Linked DNA regions of Homo sapiens: region 2 is linked to region 1. A link means that fine-mapping ties the variant in region 1 to the expression of a gene that starts in the linked region. Tissue or cell type: whole blood. Region 1 holds a variant in brackets; the other region holds the start of a gene. All regions are shown on one strand. Distances are between the middles of the regions.

Region 1 (7,658 bases):
ATTTTCACATAAAATGACTCCAATATCACTTTTCCACAAAATTCTGTTTTCATGGACCAAAAAACAAAGAGCAAAGAAAAAATTTATCCAGACTTCTCCTTAATTCTGTCCCTTATTTGTTTGTCAACTAAGATATCTTAAACCCTGTACCTCAGATTAATGACAAGATTATTGAACGTTCTGCAGGCTCTCATGAGAGGTGCCTAAGCCAGCCTAGGACAATTTCCAGGCTATTGACAGCCATTCAAGAATGTCTGTTGCAATTAATAAATGGTTCCCTGTGCTTGCTCTGAAGTACTTAGTTCCCCTGTAGAAAACCTAGCTAGCTTGAGTAGCAACTAAGAGGTTAGCCAATGCAGAGTTGTTACTTTAATCAGTATCACTTCACTGGGATTTATAATGTATGACATTGATATGGTTTCCCAAGATCCATACATTCTTTCAACAAATATTTTTTGAGTGCCTACCAAGTGCCAGGCACCCTGCCGGGTGCTTAGGTTATATCAGTGAACAAAATAGACATTCGTTCCAGCCCTTGTGGAGTTTCCACTACAGCAGAGAAATAGACAGTAAAAGAATAAACATAACAAATAAATTATGGGATACATTAGAAAATGCTAAGTGTGATAGAGAAAAGACAATCAGAGGAAGGGAGGAGGACCAGGTATGTGGGATGAAGAGGAAGCTTGCAGTATTAAATAGGATGATCAGCATAAGCCTCATTGAGAAATGGAGATTTGACCAGACTTGAAAGAGGTCAGGAAGTTAGTCAAGGGGATAACTGGGCACAGTCGTTGGGCAGAAGGAATAGCTTGAGGCAAGGCCTCTAAGGTAGATGCATGCCTGAAGGGGACTATACAAGGGGCTGTGCTAGGAGAGGAAGTCTGGGAGGTAAGGACTGGACAGATGTTGTCCCCCACAACTAAGATGTGCAAGGCTATAGGCAGAGCAGACTAGGGCCCTCAAGGCTGTTGGGTATATAAAGCTGGAGTTAGAGTCTGGGCTGAAGGTAAGACATTTGGGGGTCATAGGCATACAAATAGTATTTAAGCCTTGGGACTGGATGCAGTCACCCAAAGAGTGGGTATAGATGGAGAAAAGTCCAAGGACTTTCCATGCTAGAAGACTCCCATATGCCATCAAAGAAGCTCAAATTAACAATCAGACAATTCCAAAGAGCAGGCCATTCTACAGGTAAGGGGACTGTTCTAAATTAAAGGAGACCAACGTTTCTTGGCTTGAAATTTCTCAAAATCAAAAGTTTGTGGGGAAAGAAACCGCCAAAATTTAAAATACACTTTGCTGCCAAAGATGACTTAGCCTCGAAAAAAGAACAAGCAACTTCTGAGTCCCAGCTCCACTAATCTTTCCTAGCAGCAGCAATTTTTTTTTTTTTTTTTTTAAGACAAAGTCTCACTCTGTAGCCCAGGCTGGAGTGCAATGGTGTGATCTCGACTCACTGCAACCTCCACCTCCCAGGTTCAAGTGATTCTCCTGCCTCAGACTCCCGAGTAGCTGAGATTACCAGGAGCCTGCCACCACTCCCGGCTAATTTTTGTATTTTTAGTAGAGACGGAGTTTCACCATGTTGGCCAGGCTGGTCTCAAACTCCTGACCTCAGGTGACCCACCTACCTCGACCTCCTAAAGTTCCGGGATTACAGGCATGAGCCACCGCGCCCAGCCAGCAACAACAATTTTTAAAATTTCTTTCTGGATTCTAGAGTGAGTTTTTTTCATAACACAAGAGGATAAGAGTGAGGACAACAGGAGGTATTGATGATCTGCTGTGCACCAGGCATTATGCTAAGTGCATTCACACACATCTCAGTGCCTGTTGCCTCGTTGTGGACTTCTCTATCCCAGCTCGTCCCCCTGGCAAATTCTTTCTCATCCTTCAACTCTCAGACACCTCCCCCACCCTCTCTATAGCTTTCCCCATCTCAGACTCTTATGCTCTACTGCACTTCCTGTGTAATGGTTTTCTCCTAATGTAATTGCTTGTTTGTGTATCTTTATCTTGTGAATAAATTAAATGAGGGTAAGAAATCTGTCTATCTCCAGTGGCCAAAAAAGAGTCTGGCACACTGAAGGCACTCAACGATAAGGGCTGAGTTGATGAATATCTCATTTAATCATTACCCTGCAAGGTAGTTCTTATTATCTTCATTTTACTAATTGGTTACTTACTTGAGACTCAGAGAAATTAACTTGCCCAGAGTAAAAATAAATACAGTCACACACCACTCGTGTGTTCACAGTGATGCTGGTGTAAACAAACCTACCATGCTGCCAGTCATATAAAAGAGAATAAACAGCTATGTTACTGTTTTATGTATGTATAGTATACTTTTTTTTTTTTTTTTGAGACAGAGCTTCGCTCTTGTTGCCCAGGCTGGAGTGCAATGGCACGATCTCGGCTCACTGCAACCTCTACCTCCTGGATTCAAGCAGTTCTCCTGCCTCAGCCTCTGGAGTAGCTGGGATTACAGGCACGCTCCACCAGGCCCGGCAAATTTGTATTTTCAGTAGAGATCGGGTTTCACCATGTTAGTCAGGCTGGTCTTGAACTCCTGGCCTCAGGTGATCCACCTGCCTCGGCCTTCACAAGTGCTGGGATTACAGGCGTGAGCCACTGTACCCAGCCCTATAGTATACTTTAAATTGTTATTTTAGAGTGTATTCCTTCTACTTGTTAAAAAAAAAAAAAAAGTTAAGTAAAACAGCCTCAGGCAGGTCCTTCAGGAAGGATTCCATAAGAAAGCATTGTTGTCATAGGAGATGGCAGCTCCAGACACGTTGCTCTTGAAGACTTTCCAATGGGACAAAATAAGGAAGTCAAAGACAGTGATATTGATGATCCTGACCCTGTGTAGGCCTGGACTAATGTGTGTGTTTGTCTTAGTTTTTTTTTTTTTAACGTTAAAAAGTAAAAACAGTGAAAACATTTTAAAATAGAAAAAAACCTTACAGAAACAGGGTATAAAGAAAGTTTTTCTACAGCTGTGCTATGTTTTAAGCTAAGCATTACTAAAAAACAGTCAAAAAGTTTTAAAAGATTAAAAAGTTTATAAAGTTACAGTAAGCTAAGGTTAAATTTTTATTGAAGAAAAAAAAATTTTCTAAATAAATGTATTGTAGCCTAAGTGTACAGTGGTTATAAAATCCACAGTAGTGTGCAGTAATGTCCTTGGCCGTCACATTCACTCACCACTCACTCACTGACTCACCCAGAGCAACTTCCAGTCCTGCGGGTTCCACCATTCATGGTAAACTTCCTATACAGCTGTACCTTTTTTTATCTTTTATACACAGGTTAAGTATCCCTTACCCAAAATGCATGGGACCAGAAGTGTTTCCGATTTGGGATTTTTTTTTTTTTTAATATTTGTATTCTACTTAGTGGTTGAGCACCCCAAATCTGGAAATTCAAAATTCGAAATGCTCCTTTGAGTGTCATGTC[A/G]GTGCTCAAAATATTTTGGATTTTGGAACATTTTAGATTTCAGATTTTTGGGTTTAGGATGCTCAACTGTACCATATTTTTACTGTACCTTTTCTAGGTCTAGATGTGTTTAGACATAGATGCTTACCATTCTGTTACAGTTGCCTACAGTACTTAGTACAGTAACATGCTATACAGATTTGTAGCCTAGGAGCAATAAACTTTACCACACAATGTAAGCCTGTAGTAGGCTATACTATCTAGGTTTGTGTAAGTACACTCTGTGATGTTGGGCACAACAATGAAATCACCTAACACATTTCTCAGAACATAAGCAACACATGACTATAAATAAAAATTTATTAAGTGGGAGGGACAGGTTTCTACACTGACTGCAAAGCCACTGTACCCAAGTGCTTTAAAAACACAGATCCGAAATAGTGTTGGTGATATCTGGGACTTCACTTTACAAGCAATGCCCAGATATTCTAATATTCCTGTGTAAAGACTAGATTTCTGATTCTTCTTACAAAATGTATGCATGACCATCATGTAGAAAACAAATTAGGAAAGTTTAATAGGCTGGGCGCGGTGGCTCACGCCTGTAACCCCAGCACTTTGGGAGGCCGAGGCGGGTGGATCACAAGGTCAGGAGATCGAGACCATCCTGGCTAACACGGTGAAACCCCGTCTCTACTAAAATTACAGAAAAATTAGCCGGGTATGGTGGCGGGCGCCTGTAGTCCCAGCTACTCGGGAGGCTGAGGCAGGAGAATGGCATGAACCTGGGAAGTGGAGCTTGCCGTGAGCCAAGATCGCACGACTGCACTCCAGCCTGGGCGACAAAGCAAGACTTGGTCTCGAAAAAGAAAAAGAAAACAAATTAGGAAAGTTTAAATGTGTTTCCTATAGGAGGCTGTGATAGATACCAACTGAGAGATGTGTTGTTTCTTCTGGATGCTTATATATAATCTTAAATTTATGGTTTAAAGCAGGGGTGTCCAAGGGAGAGAATACAGTCATGAGTTCTTAGTTTCTGTTTCTGGTTGGGCCCATAAAGCCCCTTCCTCACCCCTCTTTTCCGCTTATCACTAGAGGCAGAAACTGAAAAACATGGCTTCAGGCTGGTAAAAGCCCAAAACAAAACAAAACAATAACAGAATAAGGCAGGTTGGACAAGCTTGGTTTAAAGTATTACCTGAGAGATAGGTAAATCTGTTGAGGCAGAAAGTAGATTAGTAGTTGCCAAGAGCTGGTGAGGGGAATGAAGAGTAACTGCTACTGGATATAAGGGGCTTTTTGGCAGGAGTGGCAATTTTCTAAAATGAGATTGTGGTAATGGATATACTAAAAACCACTGAGTTGTACCATTTTAAATAGGTGAAATCTTTAGAATGTGGATTACATCTCAGTAAAGCTATTATAAAAAGTATTAGCCAGGCTGGGCACTGTGGCTCACGCCTGTAATTCCAGCACTTTGGAATGCCGAGGTAGGAGGATCCCTTGAGCCCAGGAGTTCAGGATCAGGCTGAACAACATAGTGAGATCTTGTCTTGTAAAAATAATAATAATAATTTATTAAAATATTAAAGTATTAGCTGTTAGCTGAGCAAGGCATGATGGCGTGTGCCTGTGACTCCCAGCTACTCAGGAAGCTGAGGCAGGAGGTTCACTTGAGCCCAGGAGTTCAAAACCAGCAAGATCCCATCTCTTAAAAAAAAAATACTAGCTGAGAATAAGAAATAGTAAGTCATCAGATTTTCCAGCATTCTTCCAGAGTACAAGTACATTTAGTAGCTTATATTTGGGTTCTTGTTTCTCTTCATTCTTAGAGGGAAACTATTCCTTGGTGTGACTCAGGTCATGTTTTTGGATTTTGTTCTTTTATTTGCATGAGTCCCCCTCATTTCAGTTGTTTAATTCACATGAGACCATCAATGTCCCATATTCTGAGCCCCTTTCCTTCATCTGAACAGTGAGAACAATGAACACACTCATGCAATCCTTGCAGAGTCACCAGCTGAGCCTCACGGTGACTGGAAGGCCATAGCAAAGCCACTCGTCCCCCAGGAGAGGGTGTCAATCACACACTCTCACAGTCTGGGGTGAGGAGCCCTGGGTCAGAGGCCTTGCTCTCACAGCAGGGAGATCGTGATGCCAAGTTTCCCAAAGCAAATGGCTAATACACAGGGAAAAATCAAAGAATGGAAGGGTCTGCCCTACTTTAGTTGATTGCACTTGATTTTTTTCTTTTTTTTTTAACTAGTTTTCCTTCAAACAATCTGTTGGCAGAGCAGCCAACTTTGTTTCAGCAGACCTTCTTCGTTTGCCAGCCAGTTAACGCTAAAGCATCTTTTTCAAACTTTTTGGCCTTCAGTCATAGTTACACGTTTTACATTATGACCCAGTGTGAGTCATGGTCACATAAAAGCGCATGCTCCGAGGGGGTCTCAGAATGCAAAGAAACTGGACTTGTTTAAGGGTTCATACATCTCCTAGCAGTAGGGATGGGATGAACCTTGGAGGACAAACTACATTTCTGAATGAAAAGGCTGTTTTAGCAACCCCTGGCTAGCAGATTAAGGAAAGAAACTCTACTTACCGTTTTCTCTTGCTCTAGAGATGGAGGATGGGAATTCTTTTTGATGGTCAGTGATACCGTGGGTAAAAATCTTCCATTTGTTAAAGAGAAACAATGTTGTGGTTTACAGATGGCTCAGCTGTGGTTAGCCTCTATGAAAACCATTTCCTGCATGCAGTAAAAAGAAAGTTTTCTGCTTTCAGTATCAAACTACGTGGAAACGAATATTTCTTTGTTGAAATCCATTGTATTGCCTTAGCAAAGTGACACTTAGGGCTCATGCTTAAGTAACCCCATTCTTGTGATCACCCTTGTATAGATGATTGCTTCCTAAGGGCTCTTTAAATCCTGGGTTGTGAGGGGTGGCACCACAGGGGGAACGCTGATGATGCCATATCCCAGCTTTGTGAGGAGAAGTGGAAGCTGCCTCTGGAGGAAGAGGGGCAGGTTGGGATCTGAGCCTCATTAAGTTTTCCCATTGATATTAGTAGAATTGTGGCCTCTAGGAGGCCAGAGCTGCTACCCTGGCAACTGAGTGAGCAAACGATGTTGCGGATGCCACTGAGAAAGTAGATTTGGGAGTCAGGACCCTAGCAGGAGCGCTAAGTGCTGAAAAATGACCTTCACCACTTCAGTCTCGTGTAATGCAACGACCATAAAGCACGTTCCCCCCCAACCCCAGATGTAACTTTGAGGTGTCAAGGATCACAGCTGTGTCCAATGTCTATCTCCTCCTCATTTGGAATTTTGCATGCTTATTTAGTAGCAGTTAGAAGTTTGGGGCTGGGCGTGGTGGCTCACACCTGTAATCCCAGCACTTTGGGAGGCCGAGGTAGGTGGATTATAAGGTCAAGAGATCAAGACCATCCTGGCCAACATGGTGAAACCCCATCTCTACTAAAAATACAAAAATTAGCTGGGCATGGTGGCATGTGCCTGTAATCCCAGCTACTCAGGAGTCTGAGGCTGGAGAATCACTTGAACCCGGGAGGCAGAGGTTGCAGTGAGCCGAGATCGCTCCACTGCACTCCAGTCTGGCAACAGAAACTTCATCTCAAAAAAATAAATAAATAAAGTAAGTTTGGTATTGAGAGGGAGTAATTTTGCAAAATGTGTTCGGCTCCTATGAGTTTCATTTAAAGCTATGTGCTTAATGTGCCTTCTCATTTCTAGAAAGGGGCAGGCATGACTTGTTTTAAGAGAGGTGTCTATGATGTAAGGAATTATTTCTGATTTGACTGAGGACACCCCTGTATCCCAAAACTTTAGCCTAGTCTCAACCTGAGAGGTGCCCAAGAATTTAAAATTTATGTTAATATCCTCAGATTTTTTTATGAAGAGACAGAGACATGCATCCCTGGGAGAAAAAAGAAAGCTGAAAGTCTAAAAGCAGGATGCAGATATTTAAGAAAGCATGCCGGCCGGGCGCAGTGGCTCACGCCTGTAATCCCAGCACTTTGGGAGGCCAAGGCGGGCGGATCACAAGGTCAGGAGATCGAGACCATCCTGGCTAACACGGTGAAACCCAGTCTCTACTAAAAATACAAAAATTAGCTAGGCATGGCAGCATGCACCTGTAGTCCCAGCTGCTGGGGAGGCTGAGGCAGGAGAATGGCGTGAACCCAGGAGGCGGAGG
Region 2 (7,658 bases), 110 kb before region 1:
AAATAGTGTGGTAGTCATTGGTGTCTCTTCTGAATTTGCTTCTGATTGTTACCTCATAAATAGATCATTAAAATGTTTTAATCTGAAGAAATGGTAAAGATTATATATGGTTGTACTTCCATATGGTTTAACTTGAAGGGTTCCTGTGGATGATGGCTGCATTCCTGAATAGTCAATTCTTTGTATTCACAGTAGTTATGGCTATAAAGTTGTCGAGAACATTGAATTAGCAAAAACCGAACCATGGGTCCTGGGAGAAATACAGGGTTAGGTTCCTGTGAACCTCTGGTCAACACTTTTGTCAACTGATCGGTATGTAACTTTGTTTTATGTGTGTTTCTGTTCAAAGACACCTTATTTAATATGTATTTCTTAAAAATAATCTGCAGTATTTACAATAAAATTTCAATGACAGTAGTTTGGTGTAATGTACTCTAGTGTACTGAGATTGCACTACTTTTTTTTTTTGAGTCAGTCTTGCCCTTTTGTCTAGGCTGGAGTGCAATGGCATGGTCTTGGCTCACTGCCACCTCCGACCCCCAGGTTCAAACGATTTTCCTGTTTCAGCCTCCTGAGTAGCTGGGATTACAGGCGCCCACCACCACACCCAGCTAATTTTTCTATTTTTAGTAGAGACAGGGTTTCACCATGTTGGCCAGGATGGTCTTGAACTCCTGACCTTGTGATCCGCCCACCTCAGCCTCCCAAAGTGCTGGGATTACAAGTGTGAGCCACCGCGTCCAGCCTGTACAACCTTTTCATTGGCACACACAGAGTACACACATATAGTTCCCATATACAGTCAACAGTATAACATACTGTACAGTTCCCACAGTAAACACATACACTACTTTGCACACATACTGTATACCCTACAGTACAGCAATACAAATAAAGGGAAAAAGTTCAAAGATGGAGCATCCTAAGTTTTATAAAAATATCAACTAAAATCTTACGGTTGATGGAGCTGCACAATGTGGTTAAACCTCTCGACCTTGGCTTGCCCCACAGAAACCAGGGGAGGGGTGAGTGAAATTTATTCTGCAGAAGAGGAAGAGGGTGGCAGGTCAACCTCTGGCATTTCTACCTTAGGAGTCTGGCTCTTGACACTTGTTGAAGGAGTGGGCAATCTTCCCTCCCAAACTGGCTTGAGAAATTGCATTAGCCTTGCCTGCCTGGCTTTTCTGCCTGAAATCTTTAAGCATCTCGGTATAAGGGGCAAACGCAGTGGAGGCCAGCCATTTAAATTTGAGGCTTCGATCAAGCGTAGGGTCACACTCTTCCATGTCGCTAAAAATTTTTTCCAAGGCAGAACTCCATTCTGATATTTTGGCGCTGTGAGAGGGACAATTCTGGAAGTCTTGGGCCGACTTTCATGGCCATCAACTCCAATGCCTTCTTTTGCCATCTCATCCAGGTCTTCGTTGGTTGGTTCCACTGCCTTCTCTGCCAAAATGTACTCCACATCTCCTTCCTTCACGTCATCAAAGCCCTCTCCACTTACCTGCTGTGCCATATGCATTATGTCTCTGACAGTGTTCTTTATATTTTCTGTAACACCTTCAAACCCTTCAAAATTCTCCACGCAGTCTGGCCAAACATTTTCCCAACAGTTATTGGTAGTAGCCTGACCAATGCTCTCCCAGGCTGTACTGACATAATCAATAACGTTGCATGTAGTGACCGACTTCCAATAGTCCAGCATGGTGGTTTCCTTGTTGGTCCTGAGAGCCTCACAGGCCTTCATATAAAGCTCCCTTGTGTAGTGTGCCTTGAATGCTTTTATTATGCCCCGATTGAGGGGTTGGATGAGAGACTTAGTGTTTGGGGGCATAAAAAGAACTCCTATGTTGGCGTGTGCATTTTCGAGTTCTTTGCAGCAATGGATTGTAGCATTATCCAAAATTAACAAAACCTTGAAGGTGCCCGGCGCGGTGGCTCACGCCTGTAATCCCAACACTTTGGGAGGCCGAGGCAGGCGGATCATGAGGTCAGGAGATCAAGACCATCCTGGCTAACACGGTGAAACCCCGTCTCTACTGAAAATACAAAAAATTATCCAGGCGTGGTAGTGGACGCCTGTAGTCCCAGCTACTCGGGAGGCTGAGGCAGGAGAATGACGTGAACCCGGGAGGCGGAGCTTGCAGTGAGCCGAGATTGCGCCACTGCACTCCAGCCTGGGCGACAGAGCGAGACTCCGTTTCAAAACCAAACCAAAACAAAACAAACCCAAACAAACAAAAAACAAAACAAAACAAAACAAAAAACCCTTGAAGGCAAGGTTTCTGCCCTGGAGACAGTGTTCAGCTTCTGGGATGAAGCAGTTGTGGAACCAATCAGACATCATCCACACTTTTTTGTTCCACCTCCAATAGACTGGCAGATGGTTCACGTATTTCCCGTTAAGTGCTTGTGGATTTTGGGTTCTTTACACCATTAGGAGTTTGCACTTTAGTCGCTCTTGGCATTGGCGCACAATAACAAGGGTGCATGATCCTGGCATGATTTAAAGCCAGGGGCTTTGGAGGCCGTTTGCATTATATAGGTTCGTTTGCCAACATCCTTGTAAAATAAGCCAGTCTCATCCGCATTGAAAACCTGCTCTTTCACATAACCCTTTTCCTGTATAACACTTAGCAAGTATTTTTAAAATTCTTCCGCAGCCTCCTGATCTGCAGAGCTCGCCTCACCTGCAAGTTTAACATTTTTCACCCCGTATCGCCTTTTGAAACGCGCGAGCCGGCCAGCACTCGCCGAGAAGGGCTTAGCATTTCTTTGACTCTGGGTAACGTGACCACAGATATCTTTGGCTTTCAGCCTCACCACAATGCTGTCCACTATGTTTTTTTTAATCGATTGACATCTCATGAATCCACAAATTTAGCCGCTTTTCCATCTTTTCCATCTTTGTCATAGCTTCATCACGCACGATGGAGGTCACTTCAGCACTATCCGGAGCGGCCTCACGGACAGATCGGTGAATTTCCTTTTCCTTTTTCTTGATGTACCGGATTGTCGACTCGTTAACATTGAGCTCATGGCCAACAGCACTGTAACTCATGCCTGATTGGAGCTTATCCAACACGCGGACTTTCTCCGTAAGGCACATCACGGTCTTCTTTCGCTTAGGAACACTGGGCAGAGCTTAAGCACTACGCTTGGGGGCCATTTTAGAAAGCAAAACCACCCACAAAAAGCAGAAAAAAAAGTGTCAGTAAACAGACTGCGGAAAGGACTCTTTGTTTACAGCACAGGAGCTGCGACTAGAAGGCGGCGCTTCTCCCAGTTCAAACTTCAGCTGGGAACCTTACCTCCGCCAACTCCAAATTTTCACCCTCTGCGCATGCCCGGGAAGAACCCCAGACAGTACCGTGATGATTGATTTTAGGGTTACAAATACATTTTAGCAAGTAAGTGAATTTGGCATTACGAATTAATGATTAATGAAGGTCACCTGTATTTCCATAGATATGTAATTTTATTTAAGCAGGTTTATTATATTAAGGCGGCGAGGCAGCGCCGAAGACTACAAGTTCCAGCATGCACCGCGTCCGGGCGGGTTCGGGCTCCCAGCGAGGGCTTCAGGGACGCCAGCCCGGAGGCATCGGCCGGAAGTGTCGTAGGGCAACCACGTAGTACTCTCTGCGCATGTGCAAAGCGCTGTCGGGGGCCGCCCTAGCTGCCGTCGCCGCCGCCGGGGCTCTATGGTCTCTCCCTAGAGCTTTGCCGTTGGAGGCGGCTGCTGCGGTCTTGTGAGTTTGACCAGCGTCGAGCGGCAGCAACATGGAGGAATTCGACTCCGAAGACTTCTCTACGTCGGAGGAGGACGAGGACTACGTGCCGTCGGGTGAGCGATTCCGCCTGAGGCGAGAAGCGAATTGCCCCGCCCCACGCCTCACGTGAGGCGCGCTCTGCCCCCGCGGGCGTCTGCCCTGTGGCCCAGGTGGTCCAGGGGGGCTCCTGTTCTCGAGCGTCCGCTCCCTCAGGCCCCTCATCCTCGGCCGCTCCGGCCCGAGGCGTGTGCGCGTGGCGGTTCTGTGCTCCCCTCCCGTTGGGCAGCTCCGGCCGCCGCCCCCTCTTGCAGCGCGGGAACCGGCACATGGACACGGCCCCTTGTCGCTAGGGACGCTCGTCGGTCAGCCCCGAACGACACCGCTGCTTCAGAAGTCGGGGCGGCAGTCCGAGCCTTGGAGGTTTTTTTCAGCCCTGGCCCGAGAGAGCTGCTGGCCACCACCCCGTCCAAGATAGAGCTGTCCGCTCTCCGCCTGGTTGTTAGAAAGTTCTGATAGAAAGTTCCCCCTTTGATGCTTTTTGCCTCATTGTGACGTCCACCCATCCTCTCCTCTCAGAACTTTCTTTCCTTAGGGATCTCAACCCGAACGGGGTGAGAATGAATCTTACTGAAGAAATCTTTCTGTTCCCCCTTCTTGGTCTTCCCCAGACAAACCGTCTCGTTGAAAGTATCTTCACCCATTCACATCTTCAGTTGAAAGACTAGACAAACAAGAAACAAACAGACTAACAAAACACAACCCAGGAGTCGTCCCTATTCTCTTTGTTTTACTTTGTTCTGTTCTGTTTTATTTAAAGACAGGGTCTTGCTGTTGTCTAGGCTGGAGTGCAGTGATGCGATCTTGGCTCACTGCAACCTCAGACTCCTGGGCTCAAGCGATCCTCCCGTCTCAGCCTCTGGAGTAGCTGGGACTGCAGGTGCAGGCTGCCACGCCCGCTAATTTTTTAAATTTTTTTTTTTTTTTTTTTTTTTAGAAATGGCATCTTGCTATGTTGCCCAGGCTGGTCTCGAACTCGTGGGCTCAAGTGATCCTCCCACCTCAGCCACCCAAAGTGCTGGGATTACAGGCATGAGCCACCGCGCCCCGGCTAGTGAAGTATTTCTAAAAGGCACGTTGAAAACTAGCCATTCCATTCCTGGCGCGGTGGCTCATGCTTGTAATCCCAACACTTTGGGAGGCTGAGGTGGGTGGATCACAAGGTCTGGAGATCGAGACCATCCTGGACAACATGGTAAAACCCCGTCTGTACTAAAAACACAAAAATTAGCTGGGCATGGTGGCACGCGCCTGTAGTCCCAGCTCCTCAGGAGGCTGGAGCAGGAGAATCGCTTGAACTCGGGAGGTGGAGGTTGCAGTGAGCCGAGATCACACCACTGCACTCCAGCCTGGGTGACAGAGCGAGACTCCGTCTCAAAAAAAAAAAAAAAAAAGTTAGCCAGTCCCATCACCCTCATCCCTATTTTATTTAATATTCCTCAGGAGAAACTTCTTTCCACCTTTTGAATTTGGTATTATATTTCTGTTGTCTATTGATTTAACCCATGTATAGTAGGTATCATTTTTAGTAGCCCCTGACCTCCTTCCCCTCATCCCAAACACACACACAAACACTTCCACCTTCGGGGCCTCCCCAACTCCGTAGTCTGCCGTTGAACCTGTGTCCAGTTTTAGTTAGATCAGTATTCAGTGTTTTTTTTTCTTTCGAGACAGTGTCTCGCTCTGTGGCTCAGGCTGGAGTGCAGTGGCACAGTCTCTGCTTAATGCGGCCTCTGCCTTCCCGGTTCAAGCAGTTCTGCCTCAGCCTCCTAAGTAGGTGGGATTACAGGCGCCCGCCAGCACACCCGATCGATTTTCTTTTCTTTTCTTTTTTTTTTTTTTTTTTTTTTTGAGACAAGAGTTTTGCTCTGTCTCCCAGGCTGGAGTGCAGTAGCGGGATCTCGTCTCACTGCAAGCTCTGCCTCCCGGGTTCACGCCATTCTCTTGCCTCAGCCTCCTGAGTAGCTGGGACTACAGGTCCCCGCCAGCACACCCGAATGATTTTTTTGTATTTTTAGTAGAGACGAAGTTACACCATGTTGGCCAGGCTTGTTTCAAACTCCTGACCTCAAATGGTCTGCCCGCCTCGGCCTCCCTGAGTGCTGGGATTACAGGCGTGAGCCACCGTGCCAGGCCCAGTGTTTTTTTTTTCTAATGACAGTGTGAATAAACATCATGTTGACAGCTGAACCGTATGTTATACAGATTACTTTTCCTGCACTTCTTGTTTTCTCTGGTGCTAATAATTGCCATTTTTTGTTGCTACTTAGCTGTCTATGTACTTAACTGCTGTAAACCAAAAATAAAATTCTAAGGCGCCCCCAACCATCTGAATGGACTTCCTCCTTAGCCAGGGCTCTTTAACATTTAACCTGAGAGACTGTTTTGGGCCATGATGGGAAGTGGGGGCTGAACCTGCCTCATTGTATGTCTCTGACATTAACATCGATGCAGACTTTAAGTCTGATAATAAACATTTTGCAACCTATTCTCTCTGAAGCCTGTCTGCTAAAAGCTTCATCTGTATGATAAAACTGTGTTCTCAGCCGAGCAGTGGCTCGAGCCTATAATCCTATCACTTAGGGAGGCAGAGGCTGGTGGATCATTTGAGGTCAGGAGTTCAAGACCAGCCTGGCCAACGTGGTGTAACCCCATCTCTACTGAAAATATGAAAATTAGCCAAGTGTGGTGACGGGCGCCTGTAATCCTATCTACTGGGGAGGCTGAGGCACGAGATCTCTTGAACCCAAGAGGTGGGGGTTGCAGTGAGTGAAGATCATGCTTCTGCACTCCAGCCTGGGTAACAGAGCAAGACTCCATTTAAAAAAAAAAAGTGGCCAGGTGCGGTGGCTCACACCTTTAATCCCAGCACTTTGGGAGGCTGTGGTGGGCGGATTGCCTGAGGTCAGGAGTTGGAGACCAGTCTGGCCAACATAGTGAAACCCTGTCTGTACTAAAGATATAAAAAAATAGCTGGGTGTGGTGGCGTGTGCCTGTAATCCCAGCTACTCCGGAGGCTGGGGCAGGGGAATTGCTTGAACCAGGGGCGTGGGGTTGCAGTGAGCTGAGGTTGCGCCACTGCACTCCAGCCTGGGCAACAGAGTGAGACTCCATCTCGAAAAAACAAACAAACAAACAAAAAAAACCTCTGGTCTCCACAACCTCTATCTTAACCCAGACATTCCTTTCTGTTTAGGCAAACTCAACCTGTTGCCAACAAGAAAATTTTTAAATTTACCTGTAGCCTGGAAGCACTCCCACCCCGAGTTGTCCTGTCTTAATGGACCAAACCAGTATATTTCTCAAATGTATTTGATTGATGTCTCATGCCTCCCTAAAATATATAAAACCAAGCTGCACCCCAACCACCTTGGGCGCGTGCTCTCAGGACCTCTTGAGGGCTGCATCATGGGCTGTGGTTACTCATATGTGGCACAGAATAATTCTCTTCAAATACTTGACAAGAGTTTGACTCTTTTCGTCGACACTGCTAATTTGACTCTAAACTTTTAGAATTGTATAAATCATCTCCCAAAATATTTACATTCATTAGATTTTCACTTTAATCTTCTGAAACAGTCTTTGCCTTCTGGCCTCCACTTTGTCTTGGTTACCTTCTATGAGTACTCCAGTGTATTTACTTATTTATTTAGAGATAGAGTCTTGCTCTTGTCGCCCAGGCTGGAGTGCAGTAGCGTGATCTTGGCTCACTGCAACCTCCACCTCCCGGGTTTGAGCGATTCTCTTGCCTCAGCCTCCCAAGTAGCTTGGATACAGGTGCCCACCACCACACCCAGCTAATTTTTGTATTTTTAGTAGAGACGGGGT

The links. PIP is the estimated chance that this variant, and not a neighbour inherited with it, causes the effect.
Region 2: it holds the start of CFDP1, and the variant in region 1 is fine-mapped to the expression of CFDP1 in whole blood (TOPMed, PIP above 0.99).

The regions. Positions count from the first base shown.
Region 1 is chr16:75,318,487-75,326,144 of GRCh38, reverse strand. All of the region lies in intron 5 of CFDP1 (craniofacial development protein 1), which reads left to right. Among named protein-coding and RNA genes, the nearest start is that of BCAR1, 71 kb to the right of the region's middle. RefSeq lists an enhancer at 6,343-6,512. The variant A/G (reference allele first, on the strand shown) is at 3,463.
Region 2 is chr16:75,429,478-75,437,135 of GRCh38, reverse strand. CFDP1 (craniofacial development protein 1) reads left to right here and starts at 3,633. Exons shown (of 7, transcript NM_006324.3): 1 at 3,633-3,847. The coding sequence starts at 3,784. LOC124903723 (tigger transposable element-derived protein 1-like) reads right to left here and starts at 1,932. Exons shown (of 1, transcript XM_047435019.1): 1 at 916-1,932. The coding sequence starts at 1,834. The coding sequence ends at 1,037. RefSeq lists enhancers at 3,027-3,594, 3,138-3,647 and silencers at 3,958-4,197, 5,454-5,653.